Linked DNA regions of Homo sapiens. The protein of the gene in region 3 purifies or fractionates together with the protein of the main gene of each other region. This does not show direct contact. Each region holds a gene or a part of one and is shown on either strand. Other genes may lie near its edges.

Region 1 (3,500 bases), on a different chromosome or scaffold from region 3:
TAAAGCATTCTTTTGATTCATACAGAAGAAAATAAAATGAGAAACATCATGCTGGAAACTCACATTTTGCCACTATTTTCCTTTCATTGTCACTGTTATCAGGTCCGCCTACTGAGGTCTTATTTATTAAAAAGAATAAAATTGTTATTTGAGGTCTGGTCTGAAGAAGCACTTTTGTCTCCTGAAATATTCTCTATCAAGAATACAAGAATACACTGAGCTGGTCACCAAACATCTCACAGGCAGCTGAACTACACAGGCTCACTAAGGGTGATTACTTAGCAAAACCTGTACTTAAAAAAAGAAAAAAATCAAAACAGTTATCAATGAATTCTTTCCACATGGTTTCTTAGAGCTGGGGAAAAGAAAATCTTCACAAAACACTGTCCACCTTATAATGATTTTGAGAACAATAAGAAAAATTGGACCTAAAACAATACCCCTCCTGCTTTGAGGGGGCCTCTTGTCTTCTGCATGGATTGCTATAGTTGATGGAAACTGACAGGTGTATTGTTTCTGAGAGCTATAAGCTCCATAATCATCAAGGGTGAAAGGCATAACGCTATTGCTAAGTAGGTTCAATTGGCTTTAGTTCTAAGTAATAGTGCACTGTGAATACGATGAACACCTTCGAATAAGGTCTCCAGGCTCTAACAATGAATGGCTGCTTAATCTAGCCTAAAGGAACATTTTTGAACTAATGAAAATTGCTTATAAAATATACTGTACCCACAGCTCTTTAATCAAAAAAGATGATAATTTTTTTTGTAATAACCTAGTAATTTAATTGGTCACGAAGCATAAAATACATCATTTAAATTTAATTGACCCAGAAACTAAGAAACAATATTTAAATTAACTAAGCTAGAGAATTCCATGATGAGGTAATAAGACTGTTGCATTCCCCAGCTCAATGGAATGTTTTCAGAGCTAATTGTTAAACTTATATTTGACTCACACCCAGAGAAGATGACCAGTACGAATTACCCCTGGCCTCAGCAGTGATTTTAAATAGTGCATAAATATAATCAGAGACACAAGCAAGACTCTGAAATAACTGCTTTTAATTTCAAAAACAAAGCAAGAACAGTGCTATTAGGGGTAATTTAGGAAGTGAACAAGAGCCTTGGTGTTCAAAACAGTTTTACTTGTTTGAACTCGAATTGCTGGAGTGTCTTTATAGGAGAGAAAATGCAAGAGTGAGAATCTGGGACAGTTTTCCTAGGCCCACTTCACTAGGCCTGCCACTGATGATTGCATTAATGATCTCTATTTTTGTATACTGAATAAGTCAAATCCATTTGTCACACTGCAAGTGATGGCATACTTAATTTGGATATAGTCAATTAGCCTGGGCTAAGCCCCGCAGCCTGCTGTGCACACCTCTATTTTGTATTCTCCCTTTTCCCATTGCCACACGTAATCCCATTATGATGGACAGACAAAGGAATAAACTAAGAAAAAAAATCAAAGTTTAGTTGACTGGAGCTCAAAATATGCCTTTACTTACCCTAAGTAAAGCTTGTGTTTATTTTACCTAAAAGAAGTCTCTGTTTAGCTTTTCGGTGTCTTGCAGGTTAGTGTAGAAATGTAACTCATGCATCAACTGCGGTTAGACAGATTTATGACACTTTGGGGACATGCTCTTCCCTCTCCTTGCACTGCTGCAGACTGCTTACATTTTGCAAATCAGTCTGTTGCTATGACAACCCACTCCCCCACCTCCTGACTGCTTCTTGTTTTGTCATGTGGTCAGTACTGTACAATAGCAACACACAGGATAAATGTACATCATACACAGTATTTATAAGCTTAAAAGCTTGATCACAACCAAAAAGAAAATGATGGAAGCAAGAAACCAGGAGTTTAATGGAAAGGAATGAACAAGCATGAAGCTATGGGCAAGGAGAACATAAGAAAATGCAAGAGGAAAAATATTCCTAGGACAAAGTGAAAACAAAGACCCCATTTGTACTTACTTCCCCCTTGCTTTGCGATTGGTTAACTAGATGAAGGTTACATGTAGTGCCACTGCCCCTCCATGCCCATATTCATGCCCATTCCACTCATAGGTCCTAGAAGGGAGATAAAAATCCAAGAAGAGGCCAGAAAATGAGCAAAGTCAACAGATAGTGCCAAAAGACCCTTAAAAAAAAAACAGGATCTAGAGGGTTGAGAAATAGTGAGATCTTCAGTGCATAAAGATCCTGGCTTCCCCTCTGCAATATCTTAGATGCACAGATAGCAGACAAGGCAAGGCAGCCAGCTTGAGATAACAGAAAAGGATGAGGCGGATTTACCTGTGTTGATGAGGGGATGACACTCTTGGAGTCAAAAATGAGGAACTACCACAAAAACAAAGTCTTACCTGGTGCTCTAATTCCCATATGTTGCTGACCGTCCATTACGAAACCTCCCATGGGCTGTCCATCAGGATTATAAGGTGTTCCTTGACTTACTACAAAAGTACAGAATGTGGTTTTTTAATAACAGTCTCTGAGAGCAAAAGAAATAGCCCAAGAGAGACTAAGAGGAGAACATACCAGAGAAAGAGACAGAACATAGCAGGCTAGTATAATTTTTTAAACATTCAAAGTGAAATTTCTCTCAGACTAGATCTACACACCTCTGTGACTGAGTTTTTAAAACATCTAGCTCAAAGAGGGAACAGTTAAGGTGTGGAAACTTTCTGCTTGGGTTTTGTCTGGTGACCACATAATGGGTGTTGGAAGAAAAAAAGTTACAGGAGTAAATGTGTGTTGCCTCAATGCGATGCTAACATAGTTTTCCATAGTGCTCCCTAAGAGATGAGAGAGTATTTCATAAAGAAAGTAAAGACTCACATCACCCCTAGCAAATACTCTTGTTATCTTACTGGCATATTATAATGCAAAAACAAATCCTAGAGAGATGTTTCTTGGATTTTTAGATCCACAAGCCAGGATCCCATAGAAGTATCGCCATTTTAAGCTCATAATTTAAAAACAAAACAAAAAGACTGTTATTAAAAAAAAAAAAAGTCGAACACCAGAAGATGGATATTAACAAGAGAAGGTCTGAGAAATAAGAACCATGTATTTATACCACTACCTGAATCCCGTGTTTTAACTGTACATGAAAAGCTGCTTCAGAAGTAAGCTGCCTTGGGTTATTAAAGCACACAAAAGCTCTACCTCATTGAATGTCTTTGAACTTTACTGAGTCCCACAAGCAATCCTGACCCCTTTGCCCTTTTGACAGGTAATAAAGTTTACAGCAATTCCACACCAAGCCATGCACCAGGGAGTGGTCATAGTAGCAGAAAGAGCTGGGAAGGCAAACTCAGAAAAAAAATAACATTAATATATTGAATGTGTACAAAGAATATTGTAACTGAGCATATTATTTAAGAGTTACTTTTCTCTGTTGGCTTTTTTTTTCCACCTTCTCCAAACGTTTTATAATGATGTTAAATTGATTAGTGTTGTTATGAAACGAAACTGGTTTAATTTTAATTGCCA
Region 2 (3,114 bases), on a different chromosome or scaffold from region 3:
AGCCAGAAGAGCCTGTGCGCTCTCTCAGAGCCTGCACATGACTTTTCCCTGGGCCCATCTTTACTGAGAGTGGACCACAACGCCGGTGTGCACATGCATAGCCCAGAGGCAGGTGTATGTGTGTGTGGGTGGGTTTGTGTGTTGGAGGTTGAGGGTAGAGGGTAGAGTGCAGATGAAGCTTGGATACAAAGCCTACAATGTCCACAAGTATGCCCATGAGGCTCCTACTGTGAGAGACAGAGGCAAAGATGGGAATTCTGGTGTGGTATTCTAAGGAGTCTGAGAATTTTAAATTTTCAGGTTCTGACCTTCTAGGTGGTTGCAAAGTTGTATGTGTTAATGTTGGAGCATAAGTCATATTTTAACAGCATGTTAGCTGTTTTTAATATTTAAACATGATATGCAAAACTTCGTTTTCACCCTAGCTCTGGATCCCACAAATAGCAGGGACAGAACAACCTGATATCACAGGGTCAAGGACTGAATAAATGAGGCCATACTTACTGGAGCAAAATGAATTTTTTTTATTGTACTTCAGGGCAACAAGTCAACAGCTGCAGGAAAACAAAACCAGGTCCAATCTATGATCTAAGAGGAAGTCAGGAAAGGCTTGGAAGAGAGATCCAAAGGCCAGCCTGGCAAGGGGAATCCCACATGAGAATTCCTGGGAGAGAGCAGGCCCCAGGCAGCAAGGTCATCTTGCCTGCTTCTCTGTAAGTTAATCCTGGAAACAAAAGGAAAAATATTTCAAAGCCCAACTCAGTAAACTGAGGCCTAAGTCAAGTTACTAAACAATGGATGCTCAGAGTTGGAAGGCTGCTACCCAATTATCTAATCAGGAGTTTTCAAATGGTTCTAGGCCCTTTGCCAGGATAGCAGAGCCAGTCTTTTAGTTGTCTGTCTGCAGTGAGCCCCAGCGCCCTGCTTCTCCACCCTCTGCCCTAGAACCAATGTATCACAGCATAACTGTTTGGTCAGCAACAGCCTTCATCTGCACAGGAGGATATACAACGCACCTAGGGAACTGGGGGCCCAGGGATGGAGCAGCAGCAAAGCCACCGACCTTCAAGGTAATAGGGAGGCTTGGGTAAAGGCGTAGCAATAATGACCATGGGAGCTCCCAAATGTCTAGACTAAGTAAGATCAACTGTGGGTGGGGGAAAAGAGCCTCAGGTAATGAGTGAGATGGAAATTATCATCAGTCCAGTGAATTGAGGACATAGAGTCAGATTTATTGTGATTTAGAAAATTAAGACAGGCTGATGATTTTGTAACCAAGAATTGTGGTGGTGTCAATATTTATCCCTAATATATATGTAATGAAAGTCTTTAGCTCATACTATGCTCAATAAATGGTAGCCAAAATTTATCAATATTATTATTATTACTTTAAAAGTCTATGGGAAGCCTATGAAAAGGGCAGAACCAGCCTAATTGCTAAGAAAACATGGCAGAAGAGCCAAAGGAGCATGAGAAAGGATTAGTCCAAATATGTGAAGATGATCTCCCCCAGTCTCCTGTGCCCTGTTCTGCCCAGCTGTCTGCCCACTCCCAGCTCCAGCCTGGACTGTTACCTTCACAGGGAGCCAAGGCTTCTCTTGACTGCTTGGACAAGAGGGTAAGGGCCCTGGTTGCAGGATTTGCCAGTGAAGTCATCCATGTCAATAGACCAGATCATGGCTCCTCCCAGGTTTAAATTCTTTAAGAACTGAACCTATGGGAGACACAGAAGGATACACAGAGATTCGAAGGGTGGCCCCTAAATGCCCAGGACCATATCAGGTTCAGATGAGGGACTAAGCTTAAAATACAGCAGTAGACTAACTGGTTTTCTGGAGTTAGAGACTTCCTGAGGGGTAAGATTGCTCAGGGAGAGAGAGCCACCAAATCAGCATTAGCTACATCTCATTCTGACTTGAGTCACCACACTCAAGGTCCGGCATTCTTGGAGGCTGAGAAAACTCTCCATAATAAGGGAAGAAACTAGGAAGCCCTTAACAAGACAAGTGGCCAGGATTGTCAATTACACTCAAGCCTCCTTTTTGTTCTAACCATGAAAGGAACACAAATGTCTTACCAAGGTCTAAGAACTGGTAGGCTCAGGAATCTGGAGCCTCCTAGCTAGGTAATCCATGAGAAGGACTGAACAGTTTGTCCCGAGATAATTAACAAAGTAGATTATCTATACAGGCACCAACGTCTCCTTTATTCCCTCTCCCTTCTCCTTGCCTTACTCTTCTCTCCACTCCTCACTTATCAGAATAAACTTACTTGTTCTCAATTCTTTTTTGCGTCCTTTCCAACTCTTCTACCTGTACCACAGCTGCTCGCGGGTGTGACATAGAGTCACTACTAGACTTGAGCTATAAAGGCTGCTGGATCCCATCCTAGAGTCTGGGGCCTCAGAAGCTTCTCTCTTTGAACATAGAGTATTCAGGCATTTTACTACATATCACCATTCCCCACCTAAAGGAGTATCTGCCTGTGGCCCACCTACCTTGGTCTCCATACTCTTCACATCATCATAGCCCACCCACTGGTTCCCCTTGACTGCGTAGGGAACCTGCTGATCCTGGAGCCGCGTGATCTTGGCTCCTTTCAGGAACTGGCAGATCTGGCAGGGGAAAGGGAAACGAGAGGGTCAGTAATGGGTTATTCTTGAAACTTGGTTGGGGTAGACAGGGCAGGTGAGCCACTAGGGACTTGGGGAAAATATCAGAACCTTTATCCCAAGGATCAGACAATGAGAGAAATGACCACATATATCATATGAAGTGGGTGTTCCAAGGTGAACCTCTAGGAAGTGTCTGTGCTAAAGTCTCATCAGGAGGAGACACAGCAGCTAGAAATCAGAAAATACTTGAGTTCCAGATCAGACCCCAGCACCGACCAATAAATCTTCCAATTTCTTCATTTGCAAAATGGAAATAATTATAATAATGCTTTCAACATATCTACCTTACAGTGTTGTTGTTAGGATCAAATGAACTAATACACATTAAAAAATTTTTTTGAAAACAGTAAAGTGCTCTACTTCTAAAGTGAAGTATTATCATGACCATCACCACTATTCCTCATCTTGTAGCATCTCCACTTAAATCTTATTACTCCTCC
Region 3 (5,086 bases):
ATCCCTGTGATGAAGTGTGTCCTTGTGTGACCCTGAGGTTAGGCTTCTCAAGAGTTAACTACAAGCAAGATGGCACTTTTCTCTAAACTATAGGATGTACCAGATTGATGAGTTCATCTATACTCCTTCAGTGTGTTCTTTCTGATTCTCATGAGTAGCCCACGTGTATTTCCCAAATCATTTGAGTAGATGTCTTCCCTGACCTGTCACTGTAACAAAAGCTCCCAAATCCAATTCTCTAAGAACTCAGGTTTAAGATCCATCATATCTAGGAAAGCTGAACATTCCTTACTCCCCATGGAAACTTTGTGGTTACAACGCATAGAAAAGAAAAAGGATTAGAAGAACTGAAGATGGTTTTTCTGTCTCACTACTAAATCTACAAGAACCTCATTTGCTTGACTAAGTAATCCAACATTACAGTAGTAGTGAATATTCCTTCTTATTTTAAGTAGCCAGCACTGACAAATGAAGGCTGTGTTCCAAATTATGGGCTACTGTCTTCTGTGTCTTAAGCTAAGTGCATTTATTCTTTCACTAAGGTTACAGAGCAGCAACTCACAGTACAATTAACATCTCAGTCTTTGTTTCTTCACAACTTCACTATAATTATTCCGCCAACCCTTGCTTAAATGGAAATGAGTCATATCCATCTCCTATTTCTCTAAAAATAAACCCATCTCCTAATTAAGCATAACACTTTCAAGTCCTGTATGAATTGACATAGCTCAACGAATCCTTCTTAGAATATTAAAATGAACTCATGTCATTATAATTTTAAAGAGTATATTGTTTTACCCTTCCTTGAGGAGTAACTCGCTACTATCTCCTGAAAAAGAGAAAGACTAGAAGATGTTTTACTCTGGTATACCATAGCAGTTAAGAAATAAGGAATGCTTCATAGATTATTTTATGCATTTCCTTCTCAGTGGAAACAAATCCCTCACCATACAGTACTGAAATGGCATTGTCAACAATGGACAGAAAGGTCTTGCTTCTCCTAGGCATCAAGGAAATACATTAAAACCTGCCGACTCTTAGGTCTAGGAATCTAACTAAGAAAATGCCAATTCTAGTCTCTGAAACCTTTGAAATACTAACAATCTACACTTTCTAGTCAATCATACTTCTGTCAGAACATCTTCCTGAAGATCAAAGGTAATATTCAATACACTGCCTTACCATAAAAGTGGCCATAGCCTGTGTACAAATGCTATGCCTCAAATCCTGTATTTTACCATGAAATTCAACAAATGATCACACTTGGCCTTAGGATGTACTCCTGAGCCAGAAGCATGGTAAGTACTCATAAATAACTGAATAAATAAATAAGGATTGTGTTTTACTTCGAACCTCAAAACAAAAAAAGAATAAGCTGGAGGAATAATGTAGAGTACTCTTTGCTTTCCAAGAATGGTCGTAATAGAGGCCATGGAATAAGAGATTGTTTTCCAAGTCAAATGCAAAGAAGGGCCACGAGATTAAAAACGTCAACTCTAATCCAATGAATGCTGCCAATGAAACCTCTGAAGAGACTAGCATTTTAAAGAATTACATTACAGACTCTTAGCCTGTGAAGCATGTCAGACATAATCTAGAGTTTAGACTTGGCTCTGGCTCTAAAGGAATTCTCAACAAAACTGAGAGGCACCATAAATAGAAAGAGATATTACAAGAACAATGAGAGGGGACTGGATAGTTGCAATAATGCCCCTTTAAAATTGAACTAAAAGATACCAGCTGCCTTAGATCTCTCAAATCCAGCAAGCAACTTCTTGGACTATGTCTGATTGTGATTTTCATGGTGGAGTTTCATTTGTTTTATTACCCGAAATGTAAGGTTCCAATTTCTCAGTATAATGCTAAACAGCTTGCTAGCATTCTTATATAAAGAGGGATTGTGCAATTCCAGTGAATTTTGGAGTTGGAAAAAATTCATCAATCTTCTCATTTATTTCAATGAACTGAGTCCTAAGAGGTTACGTGTTTAGCAGTGATCAAGAACCCTGGAGTTACATACTATGGGTGAACGTAGAACTGCTTGCTGCGTGTATGGCCATGAGCAAATTTCTTAACCTCACAATCAGTTTCCTCAACTATAAAATGCAGGTAATAATATCAACACTTTCAGGATTATAGAGGAGGATCATACAAAACACAAATACTTAGCAGCATGCTGTATAAATAGTAAAAATGGTCAATAAATAATAATTGTTATTATTGCTATTTTATCAGTAGTGCCTGGCAATTAGTAAGCATTAGTAAATGCTTACTAATGTCACTAATTAGTAACACTACTGTTTTATATTAATTACTTTTTTCTACTGCCCAACATGGCAGAGGTTATTTAAGTGTTAGAGCTAGAACATGGATAGCTAAATCTCTCATCTCTTTTTCTAAAGACTTGTATTCAAGTCATGAAAACAGGATTCCCTTTCATAATCATAGGTTGAGTAGCATTAGTCAAGAATTTTGCAGGAGAAAAGAGCCACAATTTCTGTTTAATGGTAGTCTGTTTGTACCATTGTTATGCATAAAACCAAGAAGTAAGCATTTTTCTTACAGTGGAGAACTAACTCATTGAAAGATTGCATAGCACAAATGGTGAAATATTGCAGCTTCCTGAGTTAAACCAACATCTTTTTGATATAATGTCGATCTTTTGTGGACTTACGCTTTAGCAACTAGATACAAATATAAGGAAGTAGTAAAGCACTGCGGAAAATAGTGCAAGATTTCTTGTTTGTTCATTTTTTTCATTTTTGCTTTTTCATTTGTTTTTGCTTTTTCTTTAGAGCAGTGCCTCCCAAACTGTAATGTGCATATGAATCACCCGGGGATCCTGTTACAATGCAGTCTGCTGCAGTAGGTCTGAGGTCTGGCCAGACATTCCACATTTCTAACAAGCTCCCACGTGGTGCTGATGCCGCAGGTCAGAGGACTTCACTGTGAGTAGCAAGGCAGCGCTGGACTAACTTGGTTGAACTCATGAGTGATTATAACAAGGTAGGTGTTTAGGAGGCAGAGCCCAAGGAGGAACAGGCAAGACTTCTGTGCCAAGGCTGAGCAGATGCTGGTAACCTCAGGTGCAATACAAACCCGGCTGGGGAGAATTGAGTAGCTCAGGACCTGTCAGTGTCTCAGGAGCCATATGCCAGATGCACATCTGCCAAGACTTCTTGCTTTTCCTAAGAAGACATGGTTCTAGTTATTTGGTCCCTTTTATCAAGAAACTGGCAATGGTGCTTTCTCCCATCAACAGAAGTCATTTGGATTAAGGATTACAAGAGGTGCCAAGAGATAATTTAAAAGAGTTATTTGCATTATATGTTTTTTTTTACAATTGTAAAAGACTCACATGTTTTGGAAACTTTTTGTACATTGTTTTGCAAACTTTTATGCATCTGGAATTATTTCAAAGTGAAAAGTTTTTTTTAAGTCTCTAAAAAGACTAAATCTCTTTTAAATCTCTAAAAAGACCAAAATTCTGGAGTTTTCTACCTTTCCACATCTCTTGAAAATTTATATATTTTTTCCTCCCCATTGAGAATATTTTCCTGACATTTGCACTAAATGTTTGTTGCTTACTCTCATGCTAGTAAGTACTACCCAGCCTGTTCCCTCTAAGTTCTGAAGGCAGCTCCAACACTTGATTACTGGAATATGAAATCTATCCTCTTTTGAAAAAAAGGCAGATCAGAAACATCCTTCCCTCACTGCTCTAGATACCATTTTTTTCTACCTGAACTCCCAAAGCATGTATAGGTTATACTACACTACTTAATAATTATATTGTCTTTCATTTTTATCCTCTTTTCTAGTAAAGATTATTGTGTTAATTTTAAAAATGGAGTTTACATATTGTTTCTTCTGTGTTTGGTATGGTCTCCAGCACAAGGCTGGGCATGGAGTAGAAATAAAACTGATATTTGTCAGGGAAGGGACTGACTTACTTACCCAGGAAACTAGGCCTGGGTAGTCTTTCTTCAAAGTCAGTATCTTCATAACAATGAATAAGTAATCCACAGATACCACTTCAGAAAACAGGCTTAATCCAGTGTTCTCCTAGATAAGCAAATCAGTCTAAGCAGAAAAATCTATCCTAAATTTGTGTAAATGTCTTAGAGTTACTTAGATTCCTATGACATGCAGTTCCAATCACAAGCTCTGGGTTCACATTCCATTGGCTCTAATCAGGGTCCACCATGAGTTAACACGGTCATATGACTGAGCCTCAGAGTCCCCACCTGGTAAATGGGGATGACGAGAGTGGAGTGCCCACCTCAAAACTTCATTGTAGATTAAATGAAGCAGTCCCTGCAAAGCACCTAGCAAGGATGTTGGAACATACCAAGTGCTCAGTAAACGTTAGGGCTGAGTATTCCTCCTTAGGTGAAATGAAGAAGAATGGATATGATAACTAGAAAATCATCTACATTAAAAGGTGGAGTTCAATAAGCTATACTTTCAGTACAGCAGGGATAAAGGAGATGAGGAAGCAAAAAGTAAGTTATGTCTTCACATCTAATTTTTCCCAGGATTGAAGAAACTTAAAAGATTTGCCTGAAATGCCACTAAATTGCTGCATACCACATTAATTTTGCTCAAATGCTAAATACTTTATCATTTCCATAATGAAGAAAGAAAGGGAGGAAAGGGAAGGAGGAGGGAAGAGGGAGAGAGAGAAGAAGAAGAAAGGAGGGGAGAGAAAAGAAAGAAAGAGGAAGAAAAAAGAGAAAAGAAAGAAAGAAAGAAAGAAAGAAAGAAAGAAAGAAAGAAAGAAAGAAAGGAAGGAAGGAAGGAAAGAAAGGAAAGAAAGAAGAAAGAAAGAAAAGAAAGAAAGAAAGAAAGAAAGAAAGAAAGAAAGAAAGAAAGAGAAAGAAAGAAAGGAAAGAAAGAAAGGAAGGAAGGAAGGAAAGAAAGAAGAAAGAAAGAAAAGAAAGAAAGAAAGAAAGAAAGAAAGAAAGAGAAAGAAAGAAAGAAAGAAGGAAGGAAAGAAAGAAAGAAAGAAAGAAAGAAAGAAAGAAAGAAAGAAAGAAAGAAAAAGAAAGGAGGGAGGGAGGAAAGAAAGAAGGAAAAGAAAAGA
Region 4 (3,500 bases), on a different chromosome or scaffold from region 3:
GGTGCTGTGAGGATACAGTGTACAAGAAGACAGACAAAGGTCCCTGTGCTCACTTGAGCAGCTCACAGTGTAGTGGGAAGTCAGGCATGCCCCCCCACCGCCCCAGGGATCAGACATAGTGGAATCATAAAGAGGGGTGAGTAAGTAAGGTCCCATGTTAGAGCTGCAGGATGGGATGAGGTCATCAAGAAATGCTTCTGGAGGGGCCAGTTGGGCTGAGACAGAAGCTGGGGCATGGAGGGCAGGGTGGCAGCCTTTGGAGAGAAAAGGTCCGTGTTCCTGGACAGTCTATGGGTTGTGTCATCCTATTAAGTGGCTCTTTACGTGTACTTATTTTCTCCCCAGGTAGATCAAAAGCTTCTGGAGGGCATGTTCTGTGTCTCATTCCTTCATGTCTTTCGCTACTCCTTCCACAAAATAGTTTCCAGTAAATGTTAGTTGACATGAATTGGTACTCAAATGGATGGTTAAAAGATGTGTATTGTGTAAGACACCATATCTTCCTTGTAATTTTTTTGGGGGTCAAGCAACAAACAGTTATTGAGGCTATGATATTAGAAATTAAAGACAAGCTTTAGCCCATTTGCTCTTTAAGGAACTCAGAATCTGAACATAGAACAGCCAGCAGAGCAGGTTGAACAAGCAAGTACACCATGTCGGGGTTCCCCGACTACACCATGTCGGGGTTCCCCGACTCCCCCATCTGTGGAGCTCATTGGGTCAGGCTTCCCAGGAAGCACATGCTGCACTGCTTGGGGTGGCCAGGCATGCAGATGGCAGATGGGGTGTGTGCAGAGGCTTGTGAGTGGGGCTGCAGAGAAACAAGCTAGTGGAGAGGAGATTGGCTGGCTTGTGTTTCTCTAGTGCCGTCATGTAGAAACGCTGGATTTGGGCAAGTGATTGACAGGGCATGAACCTCTGTCCTGACATCCTGCCTCTGTCCTCAGGTAATATTTGTTGAGAGTTCAAGGGCATAATATTTCAGAGCCCAGCAGTCTCACGCGGCTCTGCTGCGAAGTCCTTCTGGTGAACTGCTCTTCCATCCAGCCTCTCCTGTGGCCAGTAGGGGAGTGCAGACACAACGTCGTTAATAGCAACACATTTTTACAAAATTTACCTTTTCAAACCCCACCCCCTAGAAACCGTAGCTTCTTTAATGTCCCGCTGGCTGTGTGAAAAACAGGAATTTATGTAACAAGTCCTGCACAGCAAACCTTTTCCTGTTCGGAAAAAATTTTAATTGTTGGCAAAGTTAGGAAACAGCTCTGTTACTCAAAGAGCGACCTGAAATGTCCTCTTAGAAAAATATGTAATATGATGTTTTGATAAGTAGGAGACTGCTGTGGCTTTTTTTTTTTTAAAGTCTAAATTAGTATATGTCCCACCTGAGTTAGTGAACGCTTCTTGAATGTTTTAAAGATTTCCTTATTATGTCTCCTGCAGTCTTTTTAAAAATGACCCCCAGCTGGGCTTGCCAGTGATCTGACAGGCTTATCATGAATGTTAGAGAGCTTCACCCCCTCTCCCCAAGTCAATGCAACAACCAGGAAGCTTCTATCTGGGAAGATCTTTCTTCCCCCTTTATCATTAACTAAATGTGACAGGGACAGGAGTCAAGCTTCCTCTCCTCCAGAGATTTCATCGGAGCTTATCTGTGTGTCTATTGTGTTCAAAGAACAAAACTGTCATGATGGAATATTGTGCAAATGCCTGGACTTCCAGTGTATAGAAAATGTCAGGGTCAGACTGCAGGGCTGCATTCCAGTGCTACCCCAAGTGCGGGCCTGCTGATCTTAAGGAGGAATTAAGAACTCGGTTCGGCTGGGGTTGGTGGGTACAGCAGACAAGGCTGTGGCTCTGTGAGCATACATGTGTGTGTGTGGCGCCTTCCCATAGGAATTTGGGGATCTTAGGGGAATGCAATAGGATGGGAGGGAAATGTACTCCCTGGCCTCTTTTAGGGATTCTTGTACCTACTCTAAGCCCCTGGCCCTCCTCACAGCGTGTCTCGAGGTGAGGGTAGATCTTGGGTGTGGAGGAAGGTGGGGATTCTTGGGAACAGGAGACAGTCACTGCCATCACCACACACCTGCTCCGTTCCAGCCGGGAATCTGGGGCTCCGGTGGTGTCTTCCCCGCTCTCACACTTCACTGTATGCTCTGGCAGGAGGGCTTGTCACGTAGCTGCTGTGTTGAAATCTTTAGGCGGAATGCAGTACAGAGAGTCAGAGGGCGTTTTGAAATGTGGATTTCTCAGCCCTGACTGCTGGGCCTTACCCTGACTTTTGCATCTCCCTTTAGAAAGTGAGACCCCTCCATTTTCTCTCTTCTACCACCTTTTAATGAGAGAAGACTTCTCTCCCAGTTTGTGTTGGAGCCAGGCCTCATCCTGCTGTGCAGAGGCTCTGCTCAGGCGCAGTGGTTGGCACTCGGGCCCGGGCGTCCCATGTCAATGGCATGAGGATGTGGGCGCTGTGGCTGCACCCCTGGGTGACCACAAATCCAGCCAGAGCCTTTTTGTGGTTGAGAAGAGGGGCCGCAGAGATGCAGGGGGCATGGTCAGCTGAGCCTTGCATCCAGTTGGCAGAGGAGGCCAAGAAAGCTGGGAGACTGTGCACATTCCAGGGTCTTAGGGCACCCAGAATCCCACTCCTTGGGAGCAGACCTCTGAGGAAAGAGGCTGCTGAATGAACAAGGTGTAGTGGCTGTGTGCCCTGTACTGTGCTGGGGGCCAGAAGCTATAAGACAAGGCCCTTCCTTCTGGGGAGCTCACAGCGTTTCCCTCGTCTCCTTTTCCACGTGTCCCACGGACTCCCCTGAACACCATCTTACTCTGTGTTGTAGAGGAGGTGAATCAAACCATGGCTTTCTCATCTGCAGCCTGGCTCTGGTGTTTCTGCTGAAACTTGGAGAGACCACCTCTGGCCCCTTTCACCATATATTTGCAGTTGTGGGTTTGTATCTGTACTACTTCTAAGCTCCTATACATACCACACTGAATAGGAATAGAGAAGCAGGACTTTGGGGCGCAGGATACCACTATTCTAAGTTGGGGTCTAATATTCCCTTCATGGTGACTGCTTACATGCCAGGCACCGCTGAGCATTTTTATGTATCTCATTTAGTACATGTAACAACCCTGATAAGGCTCTGTAATTTAGCCCTGCTTTACAGGTGAGGAAACTTAAGACACATTAGGGGCTAGGCAGCTTCCCAAGGTCACCTAGGTAAGTAAGTAGCAGAGCCACCCAGGAAGTACTCAAAAGAAAGATTGTTGGTTTTTCTTCCCTAGTTGGCCTAGGGATGATAAACATGGCATGATTAGTTATGAAGCTGCGGTAGCTTGAGAGTTAGAGCTCTTTGCGTTCTCTGTCATTTCTTCCCATCCCAGGTTGTCTGTTTGGACAGTGTAGCCCCTGGCTACGTGGAGGTGTGTCATGGAGTTAGTTGGTGCATCCTGCTCATACTACTGGTCATTGGTAGAACTGGAGGGTAGGGGCA

Evidence for each region. Proteins that work in one complex are often made in the same cells at the same time.
Region 1: the proteins of ETS1 (region 3) and MEIS1 purify together in Homo sapiens (affinity purification with western blotting; one study listed by BioGRID and IntAct). This does not show direct contact.
Region 2: the proteins of ETS1 (region 3) and CHI3L2 purify together in Homo sapiens (affinity purification with mass spectrometry; one large-scale study listed by BioGRID and IntAct). This does not show direct contact.
Region 4: the proteins of ETS1 (region 3) and FOXO1 fractionate together in Homo sapiens (co-fractionation; one study listed by IntAct). This does not show direct contact.

What each region holds. Positions count from the first base shown.
Region 1 is NC_000002.12:66,567,625-66,571,124, reverse strand, and holds part of MEIS1 (homeobox protein Meis1), read right to left. Parts: intron 2,459-3,500; coding exon 2,369-2,458; intron 2,076-2,368; coding exon 2,017-2,075; 3' UTR 1,980-2,016; intron 1-1,979. UniProt on the Homo sapiens protein: Acts as a transcriptional regulator of PAX6. Acts as a transcriptional activator of PF4 in complex with PBX1 or PBX2. Required for hematopoiesis, megakaryocyte lineage development and vascular patterning.
Region 2 is NC_000001.11:111,240,827-111,243,940, reverse strand, and holds the end of CHI3L2 (chitinase-3-like protein 2 isoform a precursor), read right to left. Parts: intron 2,615-3,114; coding exon 2,498-2,614; intron 1,715-2,497; coding exon 1,577-1,714; 3' UTR 1,575-1,576; intron 725-1,574; 3' UTR 501-724; downstream 1-500. UniProt on the Homo sapiens protein: Lectin that binds chitooligosaccharides and other glycans with high affinity, but not heparin. Has no chitinase activity.
Region 3 is NC_000011.10:128,580,202-128,585,287, forward strand, and holds part of ETS1 (protein C-ets-1), read right to left. Parts: intron 4,728-5,086; exon of another isoform or gene 2,796-4,727; intron 1-2,795. UniProt on the Homo sapiens protein: Transcription factor. Directly controls the expression of cytokine and chemokine genes in a wide variety of different cellular contexts. May control the differentiation, survival and proliferation of lymphoid cells.
Region 4 is NC_000013.11:40,562,142-40,565,641, reverse strand, and holds part of FOXO1 (forkhead box protein O1), read left to right. Parts: exon of another isoform or gene 1-2,953; intron 2,954-3,500. UniProt on the Homo sapiens protein: Transcription factor that is the main target of insulin signaling and regulates metabolic homeostasis in response to oxidative stress.